3 separate regions of the Homo sapiens genome follow, and regions 2 and 3 are each linked to region 1. The links come from fine-mapping of genetic effects on gene expression. A gene starts in region 1. Each other region holds a variant in brackets. All regions are shown on one strand. Distances are from middle to middle. Region 1 holds the start of KRT10 (keratin 10). Region 2 overlaps KRT20 (keratin 20). Region 3 has its middle 21 kb from the start of KRT10.

What was found. PIP is the estimated chance that this variant, and not a neighbour inherited with it, causes the effect.
Region 2: its variant is fine-mapped to the expression of KRT10 in whole blood (INTERVAL, PIP 0.96).
Region 3: its variant is fine-mapped to the expression of KRT10 in neutrophils (CEDAR, PIP 0.95).

The regions. Positions count from the first base shown.
Region 1 is chr17:40,821,003-40,823,823 of GRCh38, reverse strand. It overlaps KRT10 (keratin 10), which reads left to right and starts at 1,210. Exons shown (of 8, transcript NM_000421.5): 1 at 1,210-1,865; 2 at 2,707-2,789. The coding sequence starts at 1,239. The region is part of intron 1 of KRT10-AS1 (KRT10 antisense RNA 1); the gene reads right to left.
Region 2 is chr17:40,882,425-40,885,084 of GRCh38, reverse strand. KRT20 (keratin 20) reads left to right here. Exons shown (of 8, transcript NM_019010.3): 1 at 1-289; 2 at 2,431-2,513. All of the region lies in intron 1 of LOC105371777 (a long non-coding RNA gene), which reads right to left. Among named protein-coding and RNA genes, the nearest start is that of KRT20, 1.5 kb to the left of the region's middle. The variant G/A (reference allele first, on the strand shown) is at 1,231.
Region 3 is chr17:40,842,323-40,845,143 of GRCh38, reverse strand. No RefSeq gene overlaps it. Among named protein-coding and RNA genes, the nearest start is that of KRT10, 21 kb to the right of the region's middle. The variant T/AGT (reference allele first, on the strand shown) is at 1,118.

The DNA.
Region 1 (2,821 bases):
AGCTTGTTCTAGAAATTTTTAAAGCACAGTATCACAAACAGCACTACATAATTGTAAAACATGTATGAATATATACATCCAAACAACAGCAATGTCATAGCCTATGGGTAGATATAATCTTATACAATGTACCAAAATCCCAATTTACTTCACTAGACAAACTGTTATACCAAATTCTGTACACAGTATATCCAAGAAAATGTGTTGTTTTTATTGAGAAACTGAACCTAGCTTGGGAACACATGTGCACAGTCTAGTTCATAATATTTGGTGCAAGTATCATTCTCTAATATAGATTTACATTTTTGCAAGCAAATTTTTACTTGCAATCATAACATATCCAAATTTTCCCTTTTTACTCAATCAGAACTTAGTGTAAAGTACTACAAGTTAGTTCTTCGGATTTCATGCTAAGAAAATAATGCAGATTTTCTGCATTATTATGGTCTTCACAGAAACCTTAACTATGATGAATTTAAAAGTGCAAAATAATCCAGGATAACTTTATGATTTCAGATTTTTTAATGTTAAAAATAATGCCATCATTAATTAGAAAATTCTAAAATCATTACTTCCACTTTCTTAGGCAAAATATCAATATACTCTCATTTGCCAAATAAATTAAAAGATCTCCTACAAACACAATCTCCTAAATTGTGGTTTTATGGCTTTAATGTTTTATGTGTGGCAACTATTGATGCTAGTTAAATTTTTAGAAACTTTTTCTTTTTGATTCCCTACAGTTGTCTACAAGAACCTTATTGTAGCATGATCCTGCCAGACTTTATGCTATTTGTTGCTCCAATTAAAACTGTTTAAAACATGAATTTGAAAAATCTTATTTTAACTATAATTTTGTAGCTGAAACTTTTTTTTCTAAACTTTGCAAACATTCTATGCAACCTGAATTAGTGCTGAGAAAAATGGATCTTAACGGTTGCTCAATGTTCTTCAACAGGTGAAAAGCATAATAAAACATGCTCATCTGAACTCCACCCATTTTCAATTTCAACATAGCAAACCTCCTGTTTATTCTTAGGGCAAATTCAAAATTGTACATATTAGGATTGGTTATTACTGAAGATAATTTATGCAATCATAAGCCAAAGATGCTAAGTTGGCAAAAAGAAAACAATGTAAGTAAGCAAACTCTAACACATGTGGACACACCCTCTCAGTATATAAAGGCTTGTCACTGTCCTTGGTAGCAGGCACTCCCTGGGCTAAACAGCATCACCATGTCTGTTCGATACAGCTCAAGCAAGCACTACTCTTCCTCCCGCAGTGGAGGAGGAGGAGGAGGAGGAGGATGTGGAGGAGGAGGAGGAGTGTCATCCCTAAGAATTTCTAGCAGCAAAGGCTCCCTTGGTGGAGGATTTAGCTCAGGGGGGTTCAGTGGTGGCTCTTTTAGCCGTGGGAGCTCTGGTGGGGGCTGCTTTGGGGGCTCATCAGGTGGCTATGGAGGATTAGGAGGTTTTGGTGGAGGTAGCTTTCGTGGAAGCTATGGAAGTAGCAGCTTTGGTGGGAGTTATGGAGGCATCTTTGGAGGGGGCAGTTTCGGAGGTGGCAGCTTTGGTGGGGGCAGCTTTGGTGGAGGCGGCTTTGGTGGAGGCGGCTTTGGAGGAGGCTTTGGTGGTGGATTTGGAGGAGATGGTGGCCTTCTCTCTGGAAATGAAAAAGTAACCATGCAGAATCTGAATGACCGCCTGGCTTCCTACTTGGACAAAGTTCGGGCTCTGGAAGAATCAAACTATGAGCTGGAAGGCAAAATCAAGGAGTGGTATGAAAAGCATGGCAACTCACATCAGGGGGAGCCTCGTGACTACAGCAAATACTACAAAACCATCGATGACCTTAAAAATCAGGTAAGAGGTATTTTTAAATCCAGCTTTAAGTATCTTGTCCATGTAATCCAGACAGATGAATCTTAAATTAAGCACAATGTGGCTGTTCACTATGCTTACCCATGTTACTTTCTTCCTTCAAAAATAACCCAGTCTCATCAAAGATAAACATCTGTGAAACTATGGTCATGGCAATCTTCATCCAGCAAGTGTGCTACTTGTCTTAAGAGGATGGGAGATTTACTAAGCACTTTTGAGGTTTTAATGAGCATACAATGAGTCCACAGTTAAAATATGCTAGGCTATTTACAAATGTAGAAACTGAAAAAAAAAATCATGATATGAATCAGAACAAAATGTTATTCAGACTGATAACAAGCCATATTCAGTACCAACATGGCAAGAAAAATAAATTTTCCAGTATGAAAATGGGACACTGCTTGCCTCTAAGGAATTTCTGAATTGTACCTATTGTGTACCAGTTCAGAGTGTATTTATTTATTAGTATTTATCATGAGTTAAACAAATGCAGGTGTGAGTCAGCCAAAGCATGGCTGAAATACATGGAAATCACATAGTCTAAAAGAGGAGGGCACACTTACAGGAATACATCTATATAATTCCAGTTAGTTTTCAGAAAGGAATAATTCGTGTACAGAAATACAAGACTGGAGAAATTCCAAGAGAACAAATAATTCAAAGTTAAGTATATGGGTAAGCCTGCAATATTTCATATTTAAAATAAAAAATTTTCCCAAGATTTTGTAAGAGAACAACATAAAAGTGCAGAGTGCATCTATGTCACTACAAAAGCCATATCTGCATCTGACCTCTTCTCAAATAACTGTGCCTCTCCCTCCAGATTCTCAACCTAACAACTGATAATGCCAACATCCTGCTTCAGATCGACAATGCCAGGCTGGCAGCTGATGACTTCAGGCTGAAGTAAGTTAAGTGATCGTTGTATAATACTATCA
Region 2 (2,660 bases), 61 kb before region 1:
CGTTTATGGGGGTGCTGGAGGCCGGGGCATCCGCATCTCCAACTCCAGACACACGGTGAACTATGGGAGCGATCTCACAGGCGGCGGGGACCTGTTTGTTGGCAATGAGAAAATGGCCATGCAGAACCTAAATGACCGTCTAGCGAGCTACCTAGAAAAGGTGCGGACCCTGGAGCAGTCCAACTCCAAACTTGAAGTGCAAATCAAGCAGTGGTACGAAACCAACGCCCCGAGGGCTGGTCGCGACTACAGTGCATATTACAGACAAATTGAAGAGCTGCGAAGTCAGGTGAGAGATGATGCTTGTGTTTCCTACTCTGTGTTTAGCTTCAAGATAAATCAAGAGGTTATCTATGTTAGGTAGGTCCAAATGGACTTTGTAAAGCAAATTAGGCTAAAATGTTACATCTATAAAAATTCTTTCATCTACCTTTAGTGCTGGAGTACCTGACTGTACAACAGGATGACCTTAAATCATGCTATTTTTAATGTTTAACACAATTACATACAAAATATGAACATTTTATCCTCCGGAATAAAATGAATCTTTGTCACAGCTTATCACATCAGGGCTAAATGTATAGTGAACAATCTTTCTGAAAAGAGCTAAAAATTAATTACGTGATAAATCTCTCTTAGTTTTTCACCTAGTCCTTATCAAGTTTTGAAACCCCAGTAAATTCAAAGACTTTTCTCCTTTTATTTAAGTAAATGTTATAATATGACTATTAGAATACTGTACTGCAGATTTAAATAGCAAAGTGATTCTGGGTGGAAACAGTGTGGCAGGAATATGGGTCTTAATGATGCCTGGATTTTTAAGTGCCCTGTTTAATAACATGACCATCAGCATCAAGCAGTTCAGAAACTACTTCTACAGTAATAAAATGTTCTATTGCCCCCAATTCATGTTTATTACAATCATATCACAACCTCCTCCTATGTCATCAAAAAAAGGGTGGAGCTCTGTATTTTATCAGTTTCATGGAATAAAAGCAGAAGACTTTGCTCCTAATTGAAAATTTCAGATATGACACAGAGCACTTGCTTCAAATTAAAGTTCTTATCTAATTAAGAAAAGTGTTCACTGTAATTTGTGTTAAGATTCATACTCCTTTAGAGCAAAGCGCATTTACTTACCAGCAAGTCTGTTTTTCTTGAGTTGTACTAAACATCAGGGCAATTTGATTCGGACTCCATGGGAAGTTACTTTGGAATTTTAGAAACTAT[G/A]GGCATGTGAAGCAATGGCATTTAAATAGCCCTTCCGGAATAAAGTTCATCCTTCGCAAGCTCTCACTAAAAATGTTCGAACCACACCTGTCTCGTGTTTCTGACTCTAGTTTGGTTCATCTGAAATACACAGGCACAGGCCATCCGTCCCATTGAGCTGGACAGTCCCAACCATAGGAAGCAGCCCTCTCCAAAACTGGGTCCATTGAAAGAGAAATGTCATTGTAACATCTTCTGCAAGTAGATTTTTCATCTATATGCCTCCATCATGCATTTCGTTCTTTCATGCATCATGTTCTTTCATTCAGCCAATACTGAATGAACACTAACTAGGTGCTGGGCACCATGCTGGGGACTGAGGAATATTATGGTGGACACAATATGATTTATGAGGATACAGGGATGGACAGAGGGACCAGCACACAGAGGGATAATGAGAGCACAGGCAGATCATCCAGTTCAGTTTTGAGAGCATCTGTGAAGGCTCCTATGAAGCAATGTTGTCGAACCTGAGACATGAGGGAGGAATGGGAGTTCACCAGACCACAGGGGCTAAAAGAAATGTCCTAAGTAGAAACATCAAAGGCAAGGCACTCAATAAGGTGTGATGACTCAAGTTGAGTTAAATTATCCTTCTGTAAAATCACAAGAAAGTAGACCAAACCCTGGGGCATCTAGAGTTGCATTTTATGACTCTGTTATGTTAAATAACTATGTCATTATTTTTTCTATATATTTTCATGTAGAAATACTTGAAATGAACATCATTTTTGACATAATAGTCACTGTAGCTGGGGATAAACTAAATCCTTGTAAACTCCTATCCAGTTGAAAATGTCATTCTTGGCCGGGCACGGTGGCTCACGCCTGTAATCCCAGCACTTTGGGAGGCCGAGGCAGGCAGATCACCTGAGGTCAGAACTTCAAGACCAGCCTGGCCAACATGGCAAAATGCTGTCTCTACTAAAAATGCAAAAATTAGCCGGGCATGGTGGCGGATGCCTGTAACCCCAGCTACTCGGGAGGCTGAGGCAGGATAATTGCTTGAACCTGGGAGGCAGAGGTTACAGTGAGCCGAGATCGTACCATTGCACTCCAGTCTGGGCAACAGAGCAAGATTCTGTCTCAATAAATAAATAAATAAATAAATAAATAAATAAATAAAAAAGAAAATGTCATTCTTTCTCATGTATTTTCCAGATTAAGGATGCTCAACTGCAAAATGCTCGGTGTGTCCTGCAAATTGATAATGCTAAACTGGCTGCTGAGGACTTCAGACTGAAGTAGGTTCCCTAATACGTGGCAAAAGTTTCTGAAAAAGAATTCCTTTAGTAGTCCTTCCAGATACTCAGCTTTCCATATCATTGTTGATAAAGGAAGCACGGTTCAATGTCCAGAATCCTGAAGCCTAAAGGAGGTTAGAAGCTACA
Region 3 (2,821 bases), 21 kb before region 1:
AATGTTGATAGGTACCTCAGGCTCAATCTTCCTTTCCCTAAATTTGTTATCTTTCCTACAAAAACTGCTCCCCCTTTGCATTCACATATCAGTCAATAGCATTCCCCGAAGTTCAAAACTAGAAACGTCTTGTCATCTTAGATGCCCTCCATCATCAACGGGCAAACAGCCAAGTCAAATGCCACCTTATCTATGACTATCTTCCCATTCTTATCACTGCACTGACACTTTTGTGAAATTTTCATTGTTTCTTCCCCTCCCCAGACTCTTGCAAATTCTCCCATCTCATCTCCCTTTGTCCAGTTTCCCCCCAATCCATCTAGTACACTGTCAACAAAGTTATCTTTCAAAAAATTAAGGTCATGTTCCTCCCCTATTTAGCAGCTTTCAACGGTCCACTCCATGACTAAGGGATCAAGTCCAAATTCCTTAAAATGGCATTACAGGTCTTTTCTTATGTAGCACAAACCTATTTTCCAGACTTATTTGTTGGCACTCACTCACATAAACTTTATGTCCCAGCTAAACCAAACTTTTCTCAGTTCTTGAAATACGTCGTGTGTGTTTATGTCTCCTTTATACTTGCTGGTCCCTCAGCCTAGATTTTTTTTTTCCCATACAATGAATTCTAAGTCATTCTTTAAGACATCATTCAAAAGACATCTCATTAAGTCCTCCAGAAACTGGTTTCTTTTTACTGGTGCTTCATATACTTTAGATAAATCTGTATTTCCAAACTCTTCATCCTATTTTGTAATTATTTGTGCCTTGTCTCCTACCCTTTGACCCAAAAGATATGACTTCCTTGAAGGTAAAGACCACATCTTACTTATCCTTGCATCCTCAGAACCCCAGTAAAATATATGGCATATGATATATATTCAGTGAACTGTACAAAAGATAGGACAATCAGAGCCAAGATACTGTCCCTTCCCTCCAGAAGGTGAGGAAAAGAGGCCTAGAGACAACAAAGTGCTTTTCCTGCTACAGTTAATTTTAAAGTCAAGTTGTATTAATTGGAAAAATACAGAAAAATATTTTCTTCAAAATTTTTACCACCACGGTGCCTGAAATTCCACTTAGATAAAAGGTGTTTTTTGTTTTTGGTGTGTGTGTG[T/AGT]GTGTGTGTGTGTGTGCACATGTGTGTTTGAGACAGAGTCTCACTCTGTTGCCAGGTTGGAGTGCAATAGCACAATCTCAGCTCACTGCAACCTCCGCCTCCTGCGTTCAAGTGATTCTCCTGCCTCAGCCTCCCGAGTAGCTGGGACTACTTTTAGTAGAGACGGGGTTTCACCATGTTGGCCAGGATGGTCTCGATCTCTTGACCTCATGATCCGCCCACCTTGGCCTCCCAAAGGTGTGTTTTTTAAAAAAATGTAAATAGCTTCAGTGAATACCTCTCCAACCCTACCCACCTTTGGCAGTCAGTCAGTAAGTCACACCTTAGACTGAATTAGACTCACCAGATGGTTATCCTCCTAATACCTATTCCCACACCAGGCTGAGAAGTCTCAGTATGTAAAGAGGAGAAAACAGACAAATGGAGCAAGTCAAAGGAGGACAAACTAAACTGGAATGTGGCTTTGGGGTACCAGGCAGCAACTTCAGAACACAGGATAGCTGGCAGGGGGTGGGAGAGTGGTGCGGCAGAGAGGAAGAGGGCAGCAAAACAATGACGGAAACCTCAGCAGGTACTGGTTCCTCTACTCCTCCCCAGAGATGGGGGAAACACCCTCTCTCACACTGAGCAAAAGCGGCCCCACCTTGGCACACAGGCTTGGTTCTTCAGGGAAAGAGCTCATCATCATAGTTACTTAACTCTGTTAACTCCTGTAACTTAACTACTCTTCCCACCCACTGCCCCCATAATCTTTCCTTTTATCTAATGAGGAGACAAGCAGGAGAGAAGTGAGCTTGTTTCTGTAGTTCCAATAGATAAGGCTGCCACAGATAACTAGATCTCCTCTTATTTTATTACCAGATCCCACCTGAGATATTCTCTTTCCTCCTACCTTACCTGCAGCAGTGAACAGGCAGCAGTGAACAGAGAGAAGGATTGGAAGAAAGTCCAGAAAGCTTCTGAACAGCTAACAATATGCATGCAGGAGTGTTTTCTGCTCTGTGAAGCCTGCACCAATACATGTTAAAGAAATTGAAGCAAAAGGCTGACCATGAGAATGTACAACCATCATTTCCGATTCAGTATCTGTACTTCTAAACCACTCTTTCTCCTGGCTTTCCTATTCTGACACTTTCTTGGTCTTGACCACCTCAATATCCAATCAGTAATCAAATAATAATTATTATTCTTTCAATCAGCTTATTTTTTCTGTGTCCATGATGACATATGTAGACACTAACATTCTCCTAACCGATTCCCTTGCTCCATCTCTCCCAAACCAATTAGTATACTTCCAACAGGCTAATCTTCCTGAAGCAATACTTTTCTTGAGTCACTGCCCCTCTCAAAAGCAATCTGAAGCTCCAAATTGCTTATCAGGGGTTCTTAATTTTTTTTTTTCCTAAAGCAGCTCAAGGACACAAAATATACCCAATAGTAACAATTTATTTGCAGTGGTGCTTGGCAGGGGAGGGAATGAATTCTGAATCTCTGGGTGGGAGTGTTATGTTGTGTGTGATTTGTGAAACTTCCCCAAGATAAATGTGATAAGTAGAATAATAAAGGCACACACAGAGTATTATGGGTACAGAAAGAATGTGACTATGTCCTTTTCCAGCCATTTTTTCTCTTCCTATGATAGAAATCTCCATATCCTTTCCCAAGAGGGATAAGGAAAGGAGGGACCTTAAGGGGAAATCTCTT